Linked DNA regions of Homo sapiens: all the other regions are linked to region 1. The links come from fine-mapping of genetic effects on gene expression. A gene starts in region 1. Each other region holds a variant in brackets. All regions are shown on one strand. Distances are between the middles of the regions. Region 1 holds the start of LINC02367 (long intergenic non-protein coding RNA 2367). Region 2 holds the start of LOC124902873 (a long non-coding RNA gene). Region 3 overlaps LOC642846 (DEAD/H (Asp-Glu-Ala-Asp/His) box polypeptide 11-like). Region 4 overlaps LINC02367 (long intergenic non-protein coding RNA 2367).

The links. PIP is the estimated chance that this variant, and not a neighbour inherited with it, causes the effect. A credible set is the group of variants that fine-mapping cannot tell apart.
Region 2: its variant is the best candidate, but not a certain one, in a credible set for the expression of LINC02367 in ileum (GTEx, PIP 0.69).
Region 3: its variant is the best candidate, but not a certain one, in a credible set for the expression of LINC02367 in visceral fat (GTEx, PIP 0.59).
Region 4: its variant is the best candidate, but not a certain one, in a credible set for the expression of LINC02367 in lung (TOPMed, PIP 0.81).

What each region holds. Positions count from the first base shown.
Region 1 is chr12:9,364,765-9,370,012 of GRCh38, reverse strand. LINC02367 (long intergenic non-protein coding RNA 2367) reads right to left here and starts at 2,549. Exons shown (of 4, transcript NR_120479.1): 1 at 417-2,549. RefSeq lists an enhancer at 5,008-5,248.
Region 2 is chr12:9,424,854-9,430,341 of GRCh38, reverse strand. It overlaps LOC124902873 (a long non-coding RNA gene), which reads right to left and starts at 3,951. Exons shown (of 2, transcript XR_007063206.1): 1 at 3,708-3,951; 2 at 1-2,762. It also overlaps the pseudogene DDX12P. The variant T/G (reference allele first, on the strand shown) is at 2,867.
Region 3 is chr12:9,300,294-9,305,541 of GRCh38, reverse strand. LOC642846 (DEAD/H (Asp-Glu-Ala-Asp/His) box polypeptide 11-like) reads right to left here. Exons shown (of 22, transcript NR_024374.1): 10 at 4,296-4,448; 11 at 3,268-3,314; 12 at 2,840-2,919; 13 at 1,523-1,567; 14 at 1,335-1,402. Among named protein-coding and RNA genes, the nearest start is that of LINC00987, 63 kb to the right of the region's middle. The variant G/A (reference allele first, on the strand shown) is at 1,925.
Region 4 is chr12:9,390,609-9,396,096 of GRCh38, reverse strand. LINC02367 (long intergenic non-protein coding RNA 2367) reads right to left here. Exons shown (of 4, transcript NR_120479.1): 3 at 1,440-1,566; 4 at 1-378. Among named protein-coding and RNA genes, the nearest start is that of LINC02367, 26 kb to the right of the region's middle. The variant G/AG (reference allele first, on the strand shown) is at 3,307.

The sequences.
Region 1 (5,248 bases):
CCTATATGATTTGAGAAATTTTTATTTTCTTTTGGGGGAATTATTTTCAATGCCTTTTATCCTTTTTTAGTGTGATTCTTTTTCTCAAATTTCTAATAATAATTTTTTAAGAGCTAATATTTTTGAATGTCAATTAGTGTGATAAGCTCTGCATATATGATTGCTACAGTGCTATTAGGTAGGAGCAATCATCACCTCTATAAGGAAAGATACTAAGACACCGATAATTCAAATAACTTATCAACAGTAATGGAGCTTGTTGATGAAAGAACCGGGATTTAGACCTAGGCTGTTCGGCTTCAGAGCTACTCTCCTAATCAATAACTCTCTTGCACTTTACATAAACAGTTAAAAATATTAATATTTGCCATATTTGTTAAACATTTTGTTTAGTTGATTACATGAAAATTACTTGCCTTTGAGTATTTTCAGCAGACTATTAGAGATACATTGGGTAAAGGGCCGTCTAATGAACATGCAAGGGGAGTTCTTAAGGATGCCCCAGAGATTCTTGGAAACCAGTTTTCAGCCTTTTTTTTTTTTTGGTAGTATTTAACATCTTCTTTGGATTCCAGCAAAGTGATCCTAAAATTTTTCTCAGTTTCAATGAAGAGCAGTTGAACTTGTGCCAGAATTCAATTTATGTAATAGATGAAAGATTGTAGATTATCCATGTTAAAAATGATGGGATAATCAGAACAGCTTGGACAAATCCAGGATCCTAAACAGGCTTCACTAGAAAACTCTACACAAAGCCAGAACTTGCAATGGCATTAATATCTCATTTATTTATCTGCACAGTAGTATGCTAAAAAAAACTACAACACATTGTTTGGGAGAGCAAAACTGTTTCTCAAGCATGGCCTTTGAAAAAGACTTGCTAACCAAATGCTTACATGGAACTGATGGTTCCTTAGCACTACGTCAGGTTATAATCCATGATCCTGATTTCTTGAAACTTCTTTAATATATTCTGGGTAGACTTACATTAAAAAGTAAATTAGTATCAGTAATAATAATATCCTGCCAGGCTGCCAGGCAGCTAGACTGGAACTATGCTTGCTACAAAGTTATTTCCAGACAGACTGTGAGCACACTGTGCCTAGAAGTTCACATCAATTTTATAATACTGTGTCTCAAATTGTATGATACTGTGTCTGTGCATTGCTTCTTTAGTACTTCCTGGGATTTAGCTTGGAATGGCTAGAGAAAATGAGCAAATTAGATTATTTTAGTAAACAAACTCAGAGATGAATTAGGCTTTTAAGAGAGGAAAAACACTTACAGGTGAAGGTATTTTAACAAATCGCTTTAGCATCCATGGAAAGCTTTCAAATCACAAACAAAGGGAGAATACTTATCCTATCCCATAGAGATTTAAGCTACATGTCTCATGGGCATATATTAGCCTGCCAATAATACTAGGGTGCGAGTTTGATTGTATACATGAGAAACATTAAAAAGAAATAATAAGAAATGTTTAGGCATAACATTTGTGGCTGAATCTTAGTCTGGCTTCTATATGATCATCAGACGTGACAGATGATTTCAGTGATATGAGTTGAGACAGAATCTCAAATGTGTTATGAAATTTTTAATAGAAAGAGAAAAAGATGAGTGGGAAGGAAAAAGCACAGACTGTGGAGTGAGGCAGATCTGAGTCTGAATTTTAGTTTCATCAATTACAATGTGGAAAAGTGAGTTGCTTGACCTTGAACATTTTACAGATTGAGAAATTGAGGTTTAGAGATTAATTTGCCCAAAGTCTCATAGCTAGCGAGTAAGAAGCTAGAGGTTTCAAACTGGGGACTTTCTGATGTCAGAGCTCAAGCTTGTCACCACCGTGCTCCTGGGGAAACGGTCAGGAGAAAGCCAAGTTTCCAGGAAACTGGAATGGCCGCAGTGAAGAATGACCCTCTTATATCCTGCTGATTAGATGACCAGACTTGGTCATCACAGACTTTGAGCATCACAGTGGAAGAGGGGCCAGAAGAGGAGGGCAGTTTCCTGTGTTGCTCCGGAGTTGCCTCATGTTGCCCACATTTTTCTGGGGCTGACATATATTTTTCCAGTAGGTGTGACCTGAGGGTGTTGGGGCTTTACTTTTGTGCTGGTGCAGGCAGTTTTCAGGCTCATATAAACACTCACTCGGCTGTTTATTTATTCATTCAACAAGCATTTCTTAGACACCTCCTCTTCTAATTCTTGGGCCAGTAAATAAGTATGGTCCCTGACCCAACAAATCTAGCTCAGGTTCAGAGATGCACAACCTCATTCCAGCAAAGCTTTCTGTAGATTATCGGGGGCAGCTCTTACTACCCTTGATCTTTCCCACTTCTCAGCTATTCCTGTACCAACAGAAAGCTCTCCCATGGAGGAATGGCAAAGAGATGGAAAAATGCGGCTGTGAATTGGGCTGAAGTTTTGGGGAAGGATGTGGAAGCCAGAGACTAACAAGAAGTTTTGATAGTGGGTGTGATGTCCCTCCCCCTCCCTGCTGTTCCATTTCCTTGGGCACTTAGGCTGGTCTCATGATCTAAGGGCCAACTGCTCATGTGAAAATCCATCCCAGCATCCTCAGCTCAAATAACTGCTGCTTGCCACACGCCTGCCCCAACGGAATTAACGGAAGCTGCTGATAGCCCTGCTGACCTCATTGGATGGAACCGTGTCCTCAGCAGACAGGAGCTCCTTCCTCTTCTGAGTGAGACTCCCTCCTATCTTGGAGCAGGAAGTCCTCTCAGGAGAAGTCCAAGCTTCAGACAGAGAAGGAGCAGGTGCCATTCATTTACTCCCCTCAGTGTTGACCCAAAAGGCAGAGGCTGAGACGCAAAGCATAATTTAAAGAGTTTACTTGAGCCAAAGTGAGGACAGCTGCCTGGAAGACTCAGACCCAAGTACTCTTGGCTGTGAGCTTCCTAGAGCCTTTGTTCCAAGCAGGTTTTTAAAAACAAAAGACTGGGACCGAGAGAGTGGGCTGGTACAAAGTTGTTGATCAGGAACTCTCTTTGGATTACAGAAACAAAATTGATGAGCAATTGGTTATTGTTAAGTTATAGGATGTGGTTTATGCTTCTGGTGAGACACTATAATAATCCTAAATTAAAATTAATTCATAGCTACTTGTGGCAATAGCAAGCAGTTTTAAGAGATGAATACATAGCTCAAAGCGGGGAGTAGGGTGTGATTGCTCTCATTTTAACGTCTCTCCAGGCCTCATAGTTTAAAAAGGATTCACCTTCCTCAGATGAAAGCTCTTTAGGTTTTGCATCAGGAACCTCCTTTTCTGCTTTCTTGGAGGGTCAGGATGGGTCCCATGAAGAGCTGCTGGTGGGGACAGACAGAAGCCAAGGAGAGGCCGGGCAAGGAAGCTGAAGTGCTTGGCAGGGGGCAACAGTCCCCTGCCTGCAACCAACGTTAAAAAACACTGTCACTTCAGGCCGAAAGTGGTAGAAACCAGTTTGTTAAATCACACGAATGTATATATTAGGCATGCCTGGCTAGTCCTTTGCCAAGAGATCTTGTAGCATAACTGCAGGCAAATAGAAAAGACATGAAAATCGTTAATCACTGCACAAGCTTAGGGATCAGTTCTTTTTGGAGGGTGGTGAGTGGTGGAGGTACTGGAAAATGTGTACAGAAAGAGTGAAATAAGTGGAAGAAAGGCCCTAGGACTCAGGGTTTGCTTACAGTGGGATCAGAGACACCTGGAAGGATGAAGACAAAAATCCAGATTATAATTGGCCCTGGGAGTGAGACTTCATGACAATTGTGTTACCTTGAGAATTTCTTTTTAGTTCCTGGCTTCAGATTTAAGGTTATGGTTGATGGATGAATATACTTTTGGAATCTACTTTTGGAAGACCTTCTCTGGGCTGAAGTTGATAGCTAGGTTAAAATATCAAGGACTTCGGTAAATCTCTAGCAGAGCTTCACTACAGCAGAGAGGGAAAAACACCAGATTTAACATTTCATTCTTGGTGCTGCTGAGCTGTGTGCTCTAGGACAAGACATTTAACTTTTTCAGCTGCGTCCTAGAAGGATTCACACCTATCTCCCAAGACTTTGGCAATGATTAGGAGGGAGAATAACTAGGAAAAAGATAAGTGAACTGTGAAGAGCTGTGACCTTACAATGGTGACGGTGACGGTGATGATCTTTATACTCTTGGGAGGGTTGGTGCAGATTCTTGCCTGCAGCAATCATAAGCAGAGGCTAATGCTTCCATCTTTAAGATTCTCATAGTAAGGTTAAAAGATACTGATATTACCTAATGTTTAACATAACTGGACCCACTACCTACTGCTTCATGCACAGAAGTTACAGGGCTGAGGGACCCTCCATTAGCCACACTGAGGATCTGGGTTATAAATGAGTGGAATGTGTAAGGGGAGAAGAGATCTTTAGCGATCTTTGAGAGCAATATTAGCAGTGAAATGAATGCAAACCACATCTTGCCTCTTTGAAGTAATAAAGGAAGGGAAAAAAGTTATGCAAGCAAAGAAGTGCTTTTGTTTCCCCAGCCATGAATCCTGGTTAAAAATTGCACACAAACCACAAGGACAGTCAATACCATCATCTCAACTCCTAATGTGCTGTGTTTCAGGAAAAAAAAAAAAAAAAAACTAAACTAAAATTAAAGCAGTATCACACTGTCTTTGACTTGCTAGCTTTATATTCTTTTGTGAAAATCTCAAGACGTTACCCATCTTCAGAGGTAGCTCATTCCTCCCAGGCATGGAGCCGGGGAGGGTAAATGAAATGTCTCATACAACTCAGTCATTCATTTGCTCAGTGTTTATTAAGACCTAACATGTGCCAGGCTCTCTCCTAGGTGGGGCTAACTAAAGTAAGCCCAAGAGGTACTGTCCTTAAGGGGAGGAAAGACACGTACTCCAGTATCTGTATTTGGGTAAAGAAAGTGATTTGTCAAGAGAGAACAGGATTGGGATTGTTTAAAGTATGTTCACAGCCCACAGACCAAATGGACTCCCTATGACTCACTGAGGTACTCATATTTAAAACAGAAACCCAGTGGCTACAGCCGGGTGTGGGAGCGATCACATACTCTGTGTTCTCAGAAAGATATAAGAGCATCACAGGACCCCTCTTTTCACAATCAAGCCAAACCAGCGCCTGCTGTTGCTCCCAGGACAAACTGCTGCTGGGCCCCTCCCACCACCAGCCAGCCACAGTCTGACAGAGACTCCCAGTTTAGGGCTTGGAAACCAATCAATCAGAGCTCATC
Region 2 (5,488 bases), 60 kb before region 1:
TCCAGCCCTGGATGCCAGCAGCCAGTTCTGCAAGCCAGGGAGATGGCATGTGTGAGGCAGAAGTCCCCTCAGGATTGGATTTTGTCATTACTGAAGTTGTCTGGAGGGGACTGAATTGAGGAATGCTCAAGATCAGTGCAGGCTCCTCCTGCTGCCCTATCATGCGCCATGCATGGCACCAGGTGTCTCTGGTCTTCACGCTGACTCTGCCATGGGGGTGGTGTTCCTGTTTTACATTGGAAACGTGGAGATTCAGAGATGGTCAAGCTCTGTCCTGAGGTCATGCAGCTCATGAGTGTGGAGCTGGGGTGTGCCCACTGGTTTCTGACTGTGAAACCCCCACGACATCCCACCAGCTCTACTGACCTGTGCCTGGGCTGAATTGAGGCTGGGATGTGATGGTGACCTTGAACCATCACTCTTTGTAGACTCTAGGTCTTTTCCCAACCCGGTGGAAACTAGCAGGGAGATTCCATACTTGAGGAATTCAGCCTCTTGCTTTTTCTCTGACCCACAGTGGACACTGGAGGAAACCTTCCCTTCCTTCCCTTTTCTCTTAGCTCCCACCAGCCTAAGGGCTGTGGAAACCAGTACCTTTTGTCTGCACCCAGCCCCCTCTCCTCCCTTTGGTGGCTTCCTGTGTGTCCAGGGCTAGCGTCTTCTAGGTGAATCTAAGATGTCAGTACCTTAGCCCTCGGCTGCTTGCTCAGAGCCTGGTTTGTGTTCTTTCCCCAGCTCTGCCAGGCCCATTCCCAGCTGCTGCAGTACATGGAGCGATACGGGTGAGATGTGACTCTCTGAGGTAGTGGGACAGTCCCTTGGTGGCCCCCTGCATGGGCCTCTGAGAGGCAGCACTTTGGTTCCCACCTCTGGCCCGGGCTGTGGCGGGGTGGAGCTGCATGCCATTCATGTCCTAGGCACATCATGGTGTGTGCTGCACACAGACCTGGAAGGCTGGGGACTGACCGCTGGCTCTGAGGCCTGGGGCCGTGGCCAGCCTGCTCTCTGGGAAAGGATTTGTAGCTTGTGACCCAGTTTGAGAGGCACCGGGCAGCAAGGCTTCCACTGGGGTGGGCGGGGCGAGTCGCCATCAGGGCACCACCACTTAATGTCCGTTGGCTTCTTCTCAGGAAGCGTTTGAAGGCCAAGAACCTGATGTACCTGAAGCAGATCCTGTATTTGCTGGAGAAATTCGTGGCTGTGCTAGGGGGTGAGAGCCTCGTCCCCCCGGCTGACCCCCGGCCTGCAAAACCCGCCGGGCTGCTTTTTCCTTGGATGCCCATCAGGACGCCTCAGTTCTCTGTGTTTTTAAGAAGGGTCGGCCAGGTGTGGTGGCTCACGCCTGTAATCCCAGCCCTTGGGAGGCCGAGGCAGGTGGTTCACCTGAGGTCAGGAGTTTTGAGACCAGCCTGGTCAACATGATGAAATCCCATCTCTACTAAAAATACAAAAAAATTAGCTGGGAGTGTTGCCGTGGCCTGTAGTCCCAGCTGCTCCAGAAGCTGAGACAAGAGAATTGCTTGCTCAAACCCGGGAGGCAGAGGTTGCAGTGAGCCGAGATTGTGCCACTGCAGTCCAGTCTGGGCGACAGAGTAAGAGTCAGTCTCAAAAAAAAAAAAAAAAAAAAGAAGGGTCTTGGTCATTGATTTAGAAAATTCTTGTTCTTTGTAGCTTAGTTGAGTTGTCTGACTTGAGCTTTTTTTAGACCCATGGGTTCTTTGCCCATGTTCTGAGGACTTTTTATTTCAGGCGCTGCTCTGGGGGGATATTAAGGATACAGCATCACATGGACACACGGTGTTTCCGTGATAGGCATAGTTCTGTGGGTTGTTCGAAGCACTTGCATATGCGGTTTTGTGTGCCCTGTGAGAACGCAGTGCTGGTATTTGAATCCTTGTTGATAGACGCATAAACTAGAGCTCGGAGCAAGGGCTGCTCCCAGCACGGGAGCCTGGGATCTTCTGACTCCAGCTCCCACGCCTCTTTGCATGACCCTGTCACATCCCCTTCTTTTATGATGGGGCACCCCCTTGTTGGAAAGTGTCTGTGGAAGTGGAAGCTGCAGAAAGCCTGTGGGAGCTCCTGGCGGGAGCTGGTCTCGTGTTGCTGCTCTGAGCCGCCAGCTCTGCTTTGCCTCAGGCTCACCAGTGGCCTGGGCAGCTCCTCTGTGCTCCGGTGCCCTGCATACCTTGGTCTGGCTGCTGTGTCCCGGCCTCCTGGAGAAGGGGTGAAAAACATAAACTTTACAGGGCTTTGGGTTCCACGTGCAAGCACGTGAGTCAGACGTGGGAGGCTCCTGGACCCACCTGCCCTCTAAGTGGGTCCGTTGCATACTATAAACAGTGAAAAGCAAAACAAAGCCGTTCAAATACAGATGCTCTTCTTACTTGATGTGCAGTGTGGAGGGAGAGAAGATAGGGAAGGGTTGGGGGGCCTGAGAACCACCATTGTGACCTATTTCCATTCTCTTTTTTAGGGAACATTAAGCAAAATCCCAATACACAGAGTCTGTCACAGACAGGTAAGAGAGTTGCCCTCAGAGGGCCCAGAGCTGATCTGAGCCACTTCCGAGCTTAACCCTGGGACTGAAACCTGAGGCTTAGGGTGAAGCTCCCAAGGCCCTTCATGTGTTTGTTCTCAGGGATGGAGCTGAAGACTATCAACGACTTTCTCTTCCAGAGCCAGATCGACAACATCAACCTGTTCAAGGTAGAGGTTTCCACCTTTCCACATTCCACATCCAATTTCCTTCCTGTCACCACCTGTGGGTAGAGTACTATGTTAAGACTATAGAAGGAAGAAAAAGCAAAACAGATGTGTAATTACTTAACCCTTAACGCAACACGCCTGTGAGACAAAAGTCATC[T/G]TCTTTTAGAGTGAAGGCCACAGGGATGAGGGATGGGTGAGAAAGGGACCTTTCTTGGTGCCCCATAGAACAGATAGAGACTCCAGGTCCTTGCTGTGTCACTCCATCTTCTGGCACAGTCTCCCTCAGGCTTATGGACAGGAATAGGATGTTGATTTGTTCTGTGCAACCCCTGTCACGTCTTCCCACTTGGGCCTTGGGTCTGGTTGCAGCCTCAGACCTCTGCTCGCTCCAGGTCTGTGTACCCAGCGCTCCCCAGATGAAACACGGCCACTGCCGCCTGAACCCCCAGCTCGTAACTCAAATCAGCAACAGTGACTGCCCCTGGGTACAGGGTTCTGCCTCTGTTCTAGGCGCCATGCCACGTGCTGTGCTCTGAGCTAGGATATCCTTTTGCCCCGGCAAGGAAAGCAAACAGGCCCATGGAGGTGACTTCAGGAGGGTGGCGAGCATAGGCTTCCCACAAGTGAGCCAATAGCAAGTGGCAGAGACAGCGTCCAAACCTGGCTGCACTGACTTGGGGCCCCACATTCTTCCCATCCTGCCTGCCTTTTTTTTCTTAAAACCAGCTTTTCCCCTGAATTACACATTTGGGTCACTGTCACTGCCACCATCCCTGCCAGACAGGCTGGATCCAGGTCATCCTTGATGCCTTTCTCCCCTTGTCTCCCACATGCCTGTGACAGCCGCCAGGCCTGACAGCCTCAGACAGTCCTGCCGTCCCCGCGCTTCTCCCACAGCTGGGACATGGGTGCAGGCACTCCTTCTCTCGCCTTCCCTTTGCCCTCCTTGCTTTCCTTCTCCCCTCTTCTTCCCATGGGTCTCGGGTCTCATCACTCACCATTGAGGGAATCCTCATCGAAGGACATCGCTCTTTTTAGAAACCGGTTTAAAGGCTCCAAACTCCTCATCTCTGCATCCCAAGCTAAGATCTGGCACCAAACCACACACATTGGATGCTCCGACTGAGTGGCACTGCCCCAGCCCCTGAGCAGGTCCCAGCCATCATCTCCTCTGTGGCTTTGCTCATAGAAGTTCCTTTGTTTTAACTCTGTCACCTGGAAGGAAAGCCAAGGGGACCTAGATTGTACTGAGCACTCTTAGACTTGAGAGAGACATTTGGAAAGAGGGTCTCCCCCCTGAGGAGGACACTGCGTTGTGGGCAGGGGCAGTAGAGGAGGGGGTGGCCTCGGAGAGGGGATGACAAGGTTGGTGGCAAGGAGGCTCCAGGTGCCTCAGAAGGTAGCACTGCGTTGTGCTGCCTGGGTGGTAGAAGTGGTGTTTTTTGTTTTGTGTTTAAGATTACAGCTTGCTCAGTTTGCACACATGCCTACAGCTGGGCTTGGTTTTTGCAGGTGCAGCGATACTGTGAGAAGAGCATGATCAGCAGAAAGGTAACTGCTCCCATCTTGTGGTCCTGAACAAGACCCAGCTGTGCCCCAACCCCCTGCCGTTGCCATGCTTTCCTCCCCTGCCCTCAGGAAACTCCAGAGTCCCCTTCATCTCCACCCTCCTTGGTGCAGTGGGCCTTGCTGAGGTGGTGGGATGCGTGCTGCAGGTGTCTTGGGCCTGGCAGAGCCTCCGATCCACCCAGCCTCTCTCTCATGGCTGTTCCTCGTTCCTCTCCACTGCTCTCTCTCATCCCACCCAGCTCTTTGGCTTCACTGAACGGTACGGAGCAGTGTTCTCATCCCGGGAGCAGCCCAAACTGGCTGGGTTTCAGCAATTCCTGCAGAGCCTGCAGCCCAGGACGACTGAAGGTGAGGCAGGAGGGTGAGCAGGCAGAGCCGGCTGCACGCATGGGCAAGGACTTCTGTTCCTCATGTGTGGACCTGACAAGAGGGAGGCCTCCTCCCCATTCTGCTCTGTGCAGCTCTTGCAGCCCCTGCAGACGAGAGTCAGGCCAGCGTCCCGCAACCAGCTTCCCCACTGATGCACATCGAAGGCTTCCTGGCAGCTCTCACTACGGCCAACCAGGACGGCAGGGTCATCCTGAGCCGCCAAGGTAATCAGGTGGTTCTTGGCCAGGTTCAGTTCCCAGGAAGGAGCCAAGCTGAGCCCGGGAGCCGCAGCATGAAAGGATTCTTTCCTTCCATCCTGGGAACTCCCTGGGTTAGGAGGAAGCAGTGCAGTGGGCACTGGCCTGCTGTGACCTGGGCAAGCAGTGGAGGTGGACGGGAGGAGATCGAGGGGCTGGGATGGAGGTCCTCTAGGGCAGGGGTCCTAGGGAAACTTGTATTGTGGGGTAGGTGGGCTTTGGTTTGGGTCATGATTTTGTCATCTATGAGCCTTGTGATTTGGACTATTTTCTTTCTCAACTTCAGTTTCCTCATATGAAAATGGAGAGGATAGGCCGGGCGCGGTGGCTCACGCCTGTAATCCCAGCACGTTGGGAGGCTGAGGGGGGCGGATCGTGAGGTCAGGAGATCGAGACCATCCTGGCTAACACAGTGAAACCCCGTCTCTACTAAAAATACAAAAAATTAGCAGGGTGTGGTGGTGGGTGCCTGTAGTCCCAGCTACTCGGGAGGCTGAGGCAGGAAAATTGCTTGAACCCAGGAGGTGGAGGTTGCAGGGAGCCGAGATTGAGCCACTGCACTCCAGCCTGGGCAACAGATCGAG
Region 3 (5,248 bases), 64 kb after region 1:
CCTCTACTGCCCCTGCCCACAACGCAGTGTCCTCCTCAGGGGGGAGACCCTCTTTCCAAATGTCTCTCCCAAGTCTAAGAGTGCCCAGTAAAATCTAGGTCCCCTTGGCTTTCCTTCCAGGTGACAGAGAGTTAAAACAAAGGAACTTCTATGAGCAAAGCCACAGAGGAGATGATGGCTGGGACCTGCTCAGGGGCTGGGGCAGTGCCACTCAGTCGGTGCATCCAATGTGTGTGGTTTGGTGCCACATCTTAGCTTGGGATGCAGAGATGAGGAGTTTGGAGGCTTTAAACCGGTTTCTAAAAAGAGCGACGTCCTTCGATGAGGATTCCCTCAATGGTGGGTGATGAGACCCGAGACCCATGGGAAGAAGGGAGAAGGAAAGCAAGGAGGGCAAAGGGAAGGCGAGAGAAGGAGTGCCTGCACCCATGTCCCAGCTGTGGGAGAAGCGCGGGGACGGCAGGACTGTCTGAGGCTGTCAGGCCTGGCGGCTGTCACAGGCATGTGGGAGACAAGGGGAGAAAGGCATCAAGGATGACGTGGATCCAGCCTGTCTGGCAGGGATGGTGGCAGTGACAGTGACCCAAATGTGTAATTCAGGGGAAAAGCTGGTTTTAAGAAAAAAAAGGCAGGCACGATGGGAAGAATGTGGGGCCCCAAGTCAGTGCAGCCAGGTTTGGACGCTGTCTCTGCCACTTGCTATTGGCTCACTTGTGGGAAGCCTGTGCTCGCCACCCTCCTGAAGTCACCTCCATGGGCCTGTTTGCTTTCCTTGCCGGGGCAAAAGGATATCCTAGCTCAGAGCACAGCACGTGGCATGCCGCCTAGAACAGAGGCAGAACCCTGTACCCAGGGGCAGTCACTGTTGCTGATTTGAGTTACGAGCTGGGGGTTCAGGCGGCAGTGGCCGTGTTTCATCTGGGGAGCGCTGGGTACACAGACCTGGAGCGAGCAGAGGTCTGAGGCTGCAACCACACCCAAGGCCCAAGTGCGAAGACGTGACAGGGGTTGCACAGAACAAATCAACGTCCTATTCCTGTCCATAAGCCTGAGGGAGACTGTGCCAGAAGATGGGGTGAGACAGCAAGGACCTGGAGTCTCTATCTGTTCTATGGGGCACCAAGAAAGGTCCCTTTCTCACCCATCCCTCATCCCTGTGGCCTTCACTCTAAAAGATGATGACTTTTGTCTCACAGGCGTGTTGCGTTAAGGGTTAAGTAATTACACGTCTGTTTTGCTTTTTCTTCCTTCTATAGTCTTAACATAGTACTCTACCCACAGGTGGTGACAGGAAGGAAACTGGATGTGGAACATGGCAAGGTGGAAACCTCTACCTTGAACAGGTTGATGTTGTCGATCTGGCTCTGGAAGAGAAAGTCGTTGATGGTCTTCAGCTCCGTCCCTGAGAACAAACACATGAAGGGCCTTGGGAGCTTCACCCTAAGCCTCAGGTTTCAGTCCCAGGGTTAAGCTCGGAAGTGGCTCAGATCAGCTCTGGGCCCTCTGAGGGCAACTCTCTTACCTGTCTGTGACAGACTCTGTGTATTGGGATTTTGCTTAATGTTCCCTAAAAAAGAGAATGGAAATAGGTCACAATGGTGGTTCTCAGGCCCCCCAACCCTTCCCTATCTTCTCTCCCTCCACACTGCACATCAAGTAAGAAGAGCATCTGTATTTGAACGGCTTTGTTTTGCTTTTCACTGTTTATAGCATGCAACGGACCCACTTAGAGGGCAGGTGGGTCCAGGAGCCTCCCACGTCTGACTCACGTGCTTGCACGTGGAACCCAAAGCCCTGTAAGTTCATGTTTTTCACCCCTTCTCCAGGAGGCCGGGACACAGCAGCCAGACCAAGGTATGCAGGGCACCGGAGCACAGAGGAGCTGCCCAGGCCACTGGTGAGCCTGAGGCAAAGCAGAGCTGGC[G/A]GCTCAGAGCAGCAACACGAGACCAGCTCCCGCCAGGAGCTCCCACAGGCTTTCTGCAGCTTCCACTTCCACAGACACCTTCCAGCAAGGGGGTGCCCCATCATAAAAGAAGGGGACGTGACAGGGTCACGCAAAGAGGCGTGGGAGCTGGAGTCAGAAGATCCCAGGCTCCCGTGCTGGGAGCAGCCCTTGCTCCGAGCTCTAGTTTATGCGTCTATCAACAAGGATTCAAATACCAGCACTGCGTTCTCACAGGGCACACAAAACCGCATATGCAAGTGCTTCGAACAACCCACAGAACTATGCCTATCACGGAAACACCGTGTGTCCATGTGATGCTGTATCCTTAATATCCCCCCAGAGCAGCGCCTGAAATAAAAAGTCCTCAGAACATGGGCAAAGAACCCATGGGTCTAAAAAAAGCTCAAGTCAGACAACTCAACTAAGCTACAAAGAACAAGAATTTTCTAAATCAATGACCAAGACCCTTCTTTTTTTTTGGTTCTTTTTTTTTTTTTTGAGACTGACTCTCACTCTGTCGCCCAGACTGGACTGCAGTGGCACAATCTCGGCTCACTGCAACCTCCGCCTCCCGGGTTTGAGCAAGCAATTCTCTTGTCTCAGCTTCTGGAGCAGCTGGGACTACAGGCCACGGCAACACTCCCAGCTAATTTTTTTGTATTTTTAGTAGAGATGGGATTTCATCATGTTGACCAGGCTGGTCTCAAAACTCCTGACCTCAGGTGAACCACCTGCCTCGGCCTCCCAAGGGCTGGGATTACAGGTGTGAGCCACCACACCCGGCCGACCCTTCTTAAAAACACAGAGAACTGAGGCGTCCTGATGGGCATCCAAGGAAAAAGCAGCCCGGTGGGTTTTGCAGGCCGGGGGTTAGCCGGGGGGCGAGGCTCTCACCCCCTAGCACAGCCACGAATTTCTCCAGCAAATACAGGATCTGCTTCAGGTACATCAGGTTCTTGGCCTTCAAACGCTTCCTGAGAAGAAGCCAACGGACATTAAGTGGTGGTGCCCTGATGGCGACTCGCCCCGCCCACCCCAGTGGAAGCCTTGCTGCCCGGTGCCTCTCAAACTGGGTCACAAGCTACAAATCCTTTCCCAGAGAGCAGGCTGGCCACGGCCCCAGGCCTCAGAGCCAGCGGTCAGTCCCCAGCCTTCCAGGTCTGTGTGCAGCACACACCATCATGTGCCTAGGACATGAATGGCATGCAGCTCCACCCCGCCACAGCACGGGCCAGAGGTGGGAACCAAAGTGCTGCCTCTCAGAGGCCCATGCAGGGGGCCACCAAGGGACTGTCCCACTACCTCAGAGAGTCACATCTCACCCGTATCGCTCCATGTACTGCAGCAGCTGGGAATGGGCCTGGCAGAGCTGGGGAAAGAACACAAACCAGGCTCTGAGCAAGCAGCCGAGGGCTAAGGTACTGACATCTTAGATTCACCTAGAAGATGCTAGCCCTGGACACACAGGAAGCCACCAAAGGGAGGAGAGGGGGCTGGGTGCAGACAAAAGGTACTGGTTTCCACAGCCCTTAGGCTGGTGGGAGCTAAGAGAAAAGGGAAGGAAGGGAAGGTTTCCTCCAGTGTCCACTGTGGGTCAGAGAAAAAGCAAGAGGCTGAATTCCTCAAGTATGGAATCTGCCTGCTAGTTTCCACCGGGTTGGGAAAAGACCTGGAGTCTACAAAGAGTGATGGTTCAAGGTCACCATCACATCCCAGCCTCAATTCAGCCCAGGCACAGGTCAGTAGAGCTGGTGGGATGTCGTGGGGGTTTCACAGTCAGAAACCAGTGGGCACACCCCAGCTCCACACTCATGAGCTGCATGACCTCAGGACAGAGCTTGACCATCTTTGAATCTCCAAGTTTCCAATGTAAAACAGGAACACCACCCCCATGGCAGAGTCAGCGTGAAGACCAGAGACACCTGGTGCCATGCATGGCGCATGATAGGGCAGCAGGAGGAGCCTGCACTGATCTTGAGCATTCCTCAATTCAGTCCCCTCCAGACAACTTCAGTAATGACAAAATCCAATCCTGAGGGGACTTCTGCCTCACACATGCCATCTCCCTGGCTTGCAGAACTGGCTGCTGGCATCCAGGGCTGGAGGGACTCAGGAGCATGGGGGCAGGTGAGGTGCAGGGAAATGAGGCACTCTGTCATAGCGGGGTCCCCAGAGTTCTGGGATGCACTGGAAAGCCATGGTCAGCCTCCGATGAGGTCACCGCCTTGACTCGTGCACCCTGTAGCAAGCCCCACCTCCGGAGGAATTCTTGGCCCGGGTGTCTGGAGGAACCATCCAAGTCCCTTTACCTCACGGCAGGCCCTGGCCTGGGGAGGGGAGGCCCACGCACCTGGGAGCCGCTGACCTCCACGCTGTGCATGCCCGTGATGGTGTCGATCAGGTTGTGCGCCTCGTCGATGATCACCACCTGGTCCTGCAGCCGGATGCCGGCGGCCTGCCGAGTGGCCGCATGCAGCAGCATCTGATAGGGCAGCACCACCAGCTGGGAGGGGAGATGAGGCCACCTGAGCAGGGCGGGGCTCCCCTGCAGGAGGCTTGCCTGCCTGACACTGAGCTCCTGATGTGAGTGCTTCTATTTCCTGCCTGGACTGTGTAGAGACGTTCAAAAAACAGCTTCTGACAACGGACAAGCTCTCCTCGAGTTTCACATGAAAAGCCAATACATGAAACACAGGAAACTAGGGCTGGTCTGACTCCTGAGTAAACCAAGGGCAGGGCTGGGTGAAGGGAACCCCTGCTTAGCCTTGTCCATGTCCTCAAGGTCGCCCCGGAGGCCCCCGAGTTTCCACAAAACACCTGAAGACCATCGGTGCACCAGGAAGCGGCCCCAGCTTCTGCTCCTGGAGCTGCTACTTCCCAGCTGTGTGACTCTGGAAGAGTTGTCTAACCTCTCTGACCCTTGCTTTCCTCATCTGCAAAATAGGGTTGATACATCCTATTTCAAAGTGAGGGTTAAGGCGTGGAGCTGGGGTAACAAAAATAAAAGCAACTCTGCAGGTCTTTAGGTGTTTGTTGTTAGGAAAGTTTCCAGTTAAAGGAATACTCATATAAAAAATAAAATATCGGAAAACTGAATGGCTCCATCACCCACGCTTGGTGAGAAAATATGAGTCACTTAACTTTTCTGGGCTCCAGTGTCCCCATGCACGGAATTTCACTGGAATACTATTAACATAAAAGCAAAATATGGTCAAAGTACTTTACAAATTCAAAAATCGTAAAGATTTTGGGCCATATTATGGTATTTGTGTATAAATGCCTATAGCACTAATCTTGCTCTAA
Region 4 (5,488 bases), 26 kb before region 1:
CGCGAATGTGCCCATGAAAAAGGGAGGCAGAGGTTAGAGTGATGTGTCTACCAGGCATGGGAAGTGAACGGTTGCCAGAAACCAGCAGAAGCCAGGAGAGAGCCATGGAGTTGATCTGCCTCACAGCCTCTAGTTGGAACTCATCCCGTCAATACCTTGATTTTGCACTTGTAGCCTTCTCAACTGACAGAATAAACTCCTGTTGTTTAAAACCAGCCAGGTGTGGCATGTTTTCACGAGAGCCCTAGGAACCCAATACATCGACTTTCAAGGGCCGCATCCCACTGACTTCGAAGCAGGCCTGGATCCGTGTGTTGTCTCAGTTCTGGGAGCTCCCATGAGCCTGCAGAGAGACTGCAGGGTCTTCCTGGACAGTTCCTGAGGAGGAAAGAGAGACTCAGAGGATTGCCCCGATGTCGCCCCTCCCTCCTCCTAAACTCTGCTGGGCTCTCCCACTCCCCCAGGAAGACTTCCCTGCTAACTTCTGCCCTGCAAGTTGACCCTGACATTTTCAAGTGCCACCCGCCCCTGTGAACTTGAATGGATTGCGCTGTTCTTTGCACAAGAACAGAAACAGCTGCCTGGAGTGCAGCTTGTCCTAGTGGCTGGGACTTCCCTGACACACAGCTCCCCTTATCTGTTGTGGAGCGGTCTCACTGACATCTGAGCAAGCAACTGGAAGAAGCTTCAGCCCCAGTTCTAAAGGTTCACAGTGACTGACAGCTGGGGTTGAGACAGACCCGCCTTCTGTAGGTGGACTTTGGCGCTGGCCTTAGTTATCCTTTTATAGACATTACCTTTGGAGGGGGCACAATTTTCACCCTCCTGCCCTGCCACACCAGAGTATTTTTTATTCTTTGTATCCAGTTATTTCTTGGTGTTTCTTGGTGAATTGAATGGAAGATATGCTTTTTCCTAAGCATGGCTATGGCACAAGAGGCTTTCCGAAGCAGCTGCTCAGGTGGCTCAGCCTGGAAACTGGGGCAGGCTGTGAGGGAGCGTCTTCCTGAGCCCTCAGTATGTCATCCACGAGGGACAGGATGGGCTCTGGGGACTTGTTCTTCGCCCCTTCCAGAGCTGAAACCAGAATGAGACTACCTGTGTCTCCAAAAAATAAAAAAAATTATCTGGGCTTGGCAGCATGCACCGGTAGTCCTAGCTACTTGGGAGGCTGAGGCAGGAGGACTGTTTGTGTGTGCCCAGGAGTTTGAGGATACAATGAGCCATGATCGCACTTAAGCCTGGGTGACAGAGAAGGAACCTGTCTCTTAAAAAAAAAAAGAAGAAAAAGGAAAAGAAATCACCTTGTTTGTGAATAGAGACAATTTCTTTCTTTCTAATCTTACTACCTTTATTTTGTGTCATTTTCTTCCCTTATTGTATTGGCTAGGACTTCCAGTACCATGTTGGATAGGAGTGATGAGAGTAAACATCCTTGCCTGGTTCTCAATCTTATGGGGAAGGCAATCAGTTTTTCATCACTAAGTAAGATGTTTGCTGTAGGCTTTTTGAAGGTGCGATACATCAGGTTAAGAAGCTTGCTTCTATTCCTAGTTTGCAGAAAATCTGTAATAGGAAAATATGTTGAATTCTGTAAATTTTTTTTCTATATCAATTGATGTGATCATGTTGATTTTCTTGTTAGATTATTACTATGGCAGATTACATTGACTGATCTTCAAGTATTGAAGCAGTCTTGCATTCCCAGGAAGAACCCACTTGGTTATGGTATATTCCAAGGACTACATAAACACGTGCACAAACACACACACACACACACACACACACATTCCAGAAGTAGCACAAGTTCAAAATACAAAACTCATTTAATTTGTATATACTAACAATAACTAACAGAAAATCAACATTTTAAAATAATTGCATTTGTACTATCTCTGAAAAAATGAAATGATTGAGTCTATATAAGATCTGTATGCTGAAAATGTACAAAATGCTGTAAACAAAATCACAGAAGACCTAAATCAATGAAGAAATACATGGATCCATGGGTAGAAATACTTAATAAAGACTTCAATTCTTCCCAAATTGATCTATACTTTTAATACAACTCCATCGAAATCCCACCATAGGATATGTTGTATATCAGGTAATCTGATTTTAAAAGACATGTAAAGATTAAAAGGTAGAAAAAAGAATGATGTCAGAAAAGCGATGCTACACAATTTTAAAGTTCTGCTCCAATGCTGAAGTAATCAAGACAGTGTGATTCCAGCAAAGGGATAGACACAGAGATCAATGGGACAGACTGTATCCAGGAATAGATCCACACTGACATGGAAAATTGATTTCTAACAAAGCTGCAAAGACAACTCAATAGAGAAAGGAGAATCTTTCAACAAATGCTACTGAAACAATTGAACTTTCATAAGCAAAAAATTGAACCTCAACCTAAAGCTCCTACCTTTATATAAACATTAATTCAAACGGAGCACAGATTTAAATAAAAAATGTAACACTATGAAACTTTTAGAAGAAACCATAGGAGAAATATTCAAGACTAAGTTGTTAGACATGACACCAATATAACAATTTGTAGAAGAAAATACTGACAAAATGAACTTCCTCAATATGTAGGACTTTTGCTCTGTGAAGGATCTTATTAAGAGGATGAAAAGACATGCTACAGGCTGAGTGAAAACACCTGCAAACCATATAGCTGACAAAGGACTTGTATGTAGAATCTATGAAGAACCTTCAAAATTCAACACATTTTTTTTAAAAAAACAATCCGGTGTAAAAGTGGGCAAAAGACATGAAAAGACATTTTGTCAAAGAAAGAACATGAACAGCAAATAAGCACAAGTGAATATGATCAGCATCAGTAACCATTAGAGAAATGCAAATTAAAACAATGAAGTATCGCTATGTCTGTTAGAAAGGATAAGCTCAATGATGACACCAAATCCTGGCAAGATTGCTTAGAAACCAGACAACTCACACATCACTGGCATCACTTGAACAAGGTATAGCCACTCTGGAAAAGAGTTTGGCAGTTTCTTATAAAACCAAAGGTACATGTCCTATGTGACTCAGCAATTTCACTCTTCAGGATTTAACCTGAAGAATGAAAGCAGGTTCACAAAAACCTGTACATCAATGTTCTTAAAAGTTTTATTCAAAATAGCCTCAAACTGGAAACCACCCAAATATCTTTCAATGGTGAAAGACTCAACAAATTCTACCATATCCATATAAGAGACTACTACCCAGGAATAAAAAGCAAGAAATTATTGATACAGGCAAAAACTTGGAGGTTTTGTTAGAGCGTGAAACTTGGTGAAAAAA[G/AG]CCAATCTTTTGTTGAAGATTGGCTTTTGGCTTTTGTTGACGAAAGAAAAAACTTCCTCTTATGAAAAAAGCCAATCTTCTAAAAGGTTTTACACTTACAAGCTTCCATGTATAAAACATTCTCCTGTTGTGGGATAATTTAGGAATCAGAGAGACCGAGGGGTTGAGGAGGATTTATTATTATTATTTAGGTGCATTGGCCCAGTCAGATTAACATCCAAAGGACTGAGCCCCGAACAAAGAGTCAAGTTACCTTTTAAGCATTTCATGGGTGGGGGAAGATTTGTGCAGGGGGAAGCATATTACAGAAGCGAGAAACAAAGACAGTTATTCAATTGAGACTTGCATTACATTATTTCTTACTTTTCAAGGAAAAACATATTTTACAACTTGAGTTTATCTGTCTAGTGACCTTGGAGCTGCACAGCTAGAGAAACAGGGTCTTCATAATGCCTGGGAAAGGGAGAGATAAGGCTCACTAGCCACAGAAAAACAGGCAGTTAATTTTTAAAGGACTCCAGCTCTTTCTCTTCCTCAGGGGGAATTGGGTTTTCTTACATACAACTGAGTTTTTGCTTACACATTCTTTAATTTCTTTTAATTCCTGTTCCACTCCAACTAACAAAACTATAGAGATGGAGGACAGATTGGTGGTTGCCAGGAGACAGGGACAAGGTACGAGGATGTGACTAAAAAGAGGTAGCACAAGTGAATTCCTCTCAGTGATGAAACAGTTCTTTGGCAAGGACAGTTGGTGCAAGTGGTTACAGGATACTACACATGAGATCACCTTGCATAGAACACACACACACAAAGGAGTGCATGCAAACACTGTGAAAACTGCATAAGGTCTGTAGTCTAACAATAGTCAGACAATGCCCATGCCCTGGTTTTGATGGTGTCCTGCTGTTCTGTAAGATAGCTGTTCTGTTAGGGAAAGCCGGGTAAAGCATCCAAGGGACTCTGTCTACTACTTTTGTGACTCTCTGTGAATCTACAATCATTTCAAAATAAAAACTTTAAAGAAAATCAACCAAGTGATTTTTATATAATAAACGTCAGGTTAATCCTCACCTTGGGAGGGAATAGAGACTAGGGAGCATCGCAATGGTGGATTCTGGAGTGCTGGCAGTGTCCTTTTTTGTTTTTCTAACCTAGATGATGATGACATAGATACTCCTTTGTGACAAGTCATTGAGGTGTACGTATTGTTTCATAAACTTATGTGTGTTAAACTATCGAAAAGAATTAAGTTAAAAGAAGAACTTTAAGGTAAATACAGCATTTTACATAAAAGAAACATGGAGCTGTATTTTTGTTAATGGGTCCAAAACAGAAAAACAGAGATTGATTTAAACAACTCTCTAGATAGGTTTCACAGCAGACTAGGCACAGCTGAAGAGTGAATGAGTGAATTGGAAGACAGAGTGACCAATTTACAGCACAGATATGTAGAAAGATGAGCAAAGTAAAATAGAGTTTTACTCCAATATGTGCTTAAGGGGAATTAAAAAAAAATTGAGTAGTTGGGCAAGAGGTAATCATTGAAGTGACAATGGCTGAGAATTTTTCAGAATTAAAAAAGATAACCCTTGGGTTGAAAAGGCACATCAAGTCTTTTACAGGATTAAAAATACATATTTATTTATTAGATAGTAGATAAACCCCTAGACACATTGGGATAAAAGAAAAAATTTAAAAAATGAGGAAACACCAAAAGGTTAAAAGAAAAAAGAAAGATTTGCTGCAAAGAAAAGATTGCCAAGCCAACAGCAGACATCTCATCAGCAACAGTAGATGAGACAATGGAATAATAACTTCCACGTTTTGAGGGAAAATAACAATGAGCCTAAATCATCAGCAGCAGTAGATGAGACAATGGAATAATAACTTCCACGTTTTGAGGGACAATAACAATGAGCCTAAAAATTTATCCCCAGCTACCCCAGTATTCACGAGTGAGGTTATTTAAAATAATTTTATAAAATGTGGCTATTTTATAAATGCAGTTATTTAAAATAATTTTATAAAATGATATTTGATGATGGGGAAATGCTCACACTACATTAAGTTAAAAAAGACAAGGAAATGGATAATGGGTATAAAAATACAGTTAGAAGGATTATGACCTAGTGTTCAGTAGCACAATAGGGTGATTGTACTTAATAATTTATTGTATATT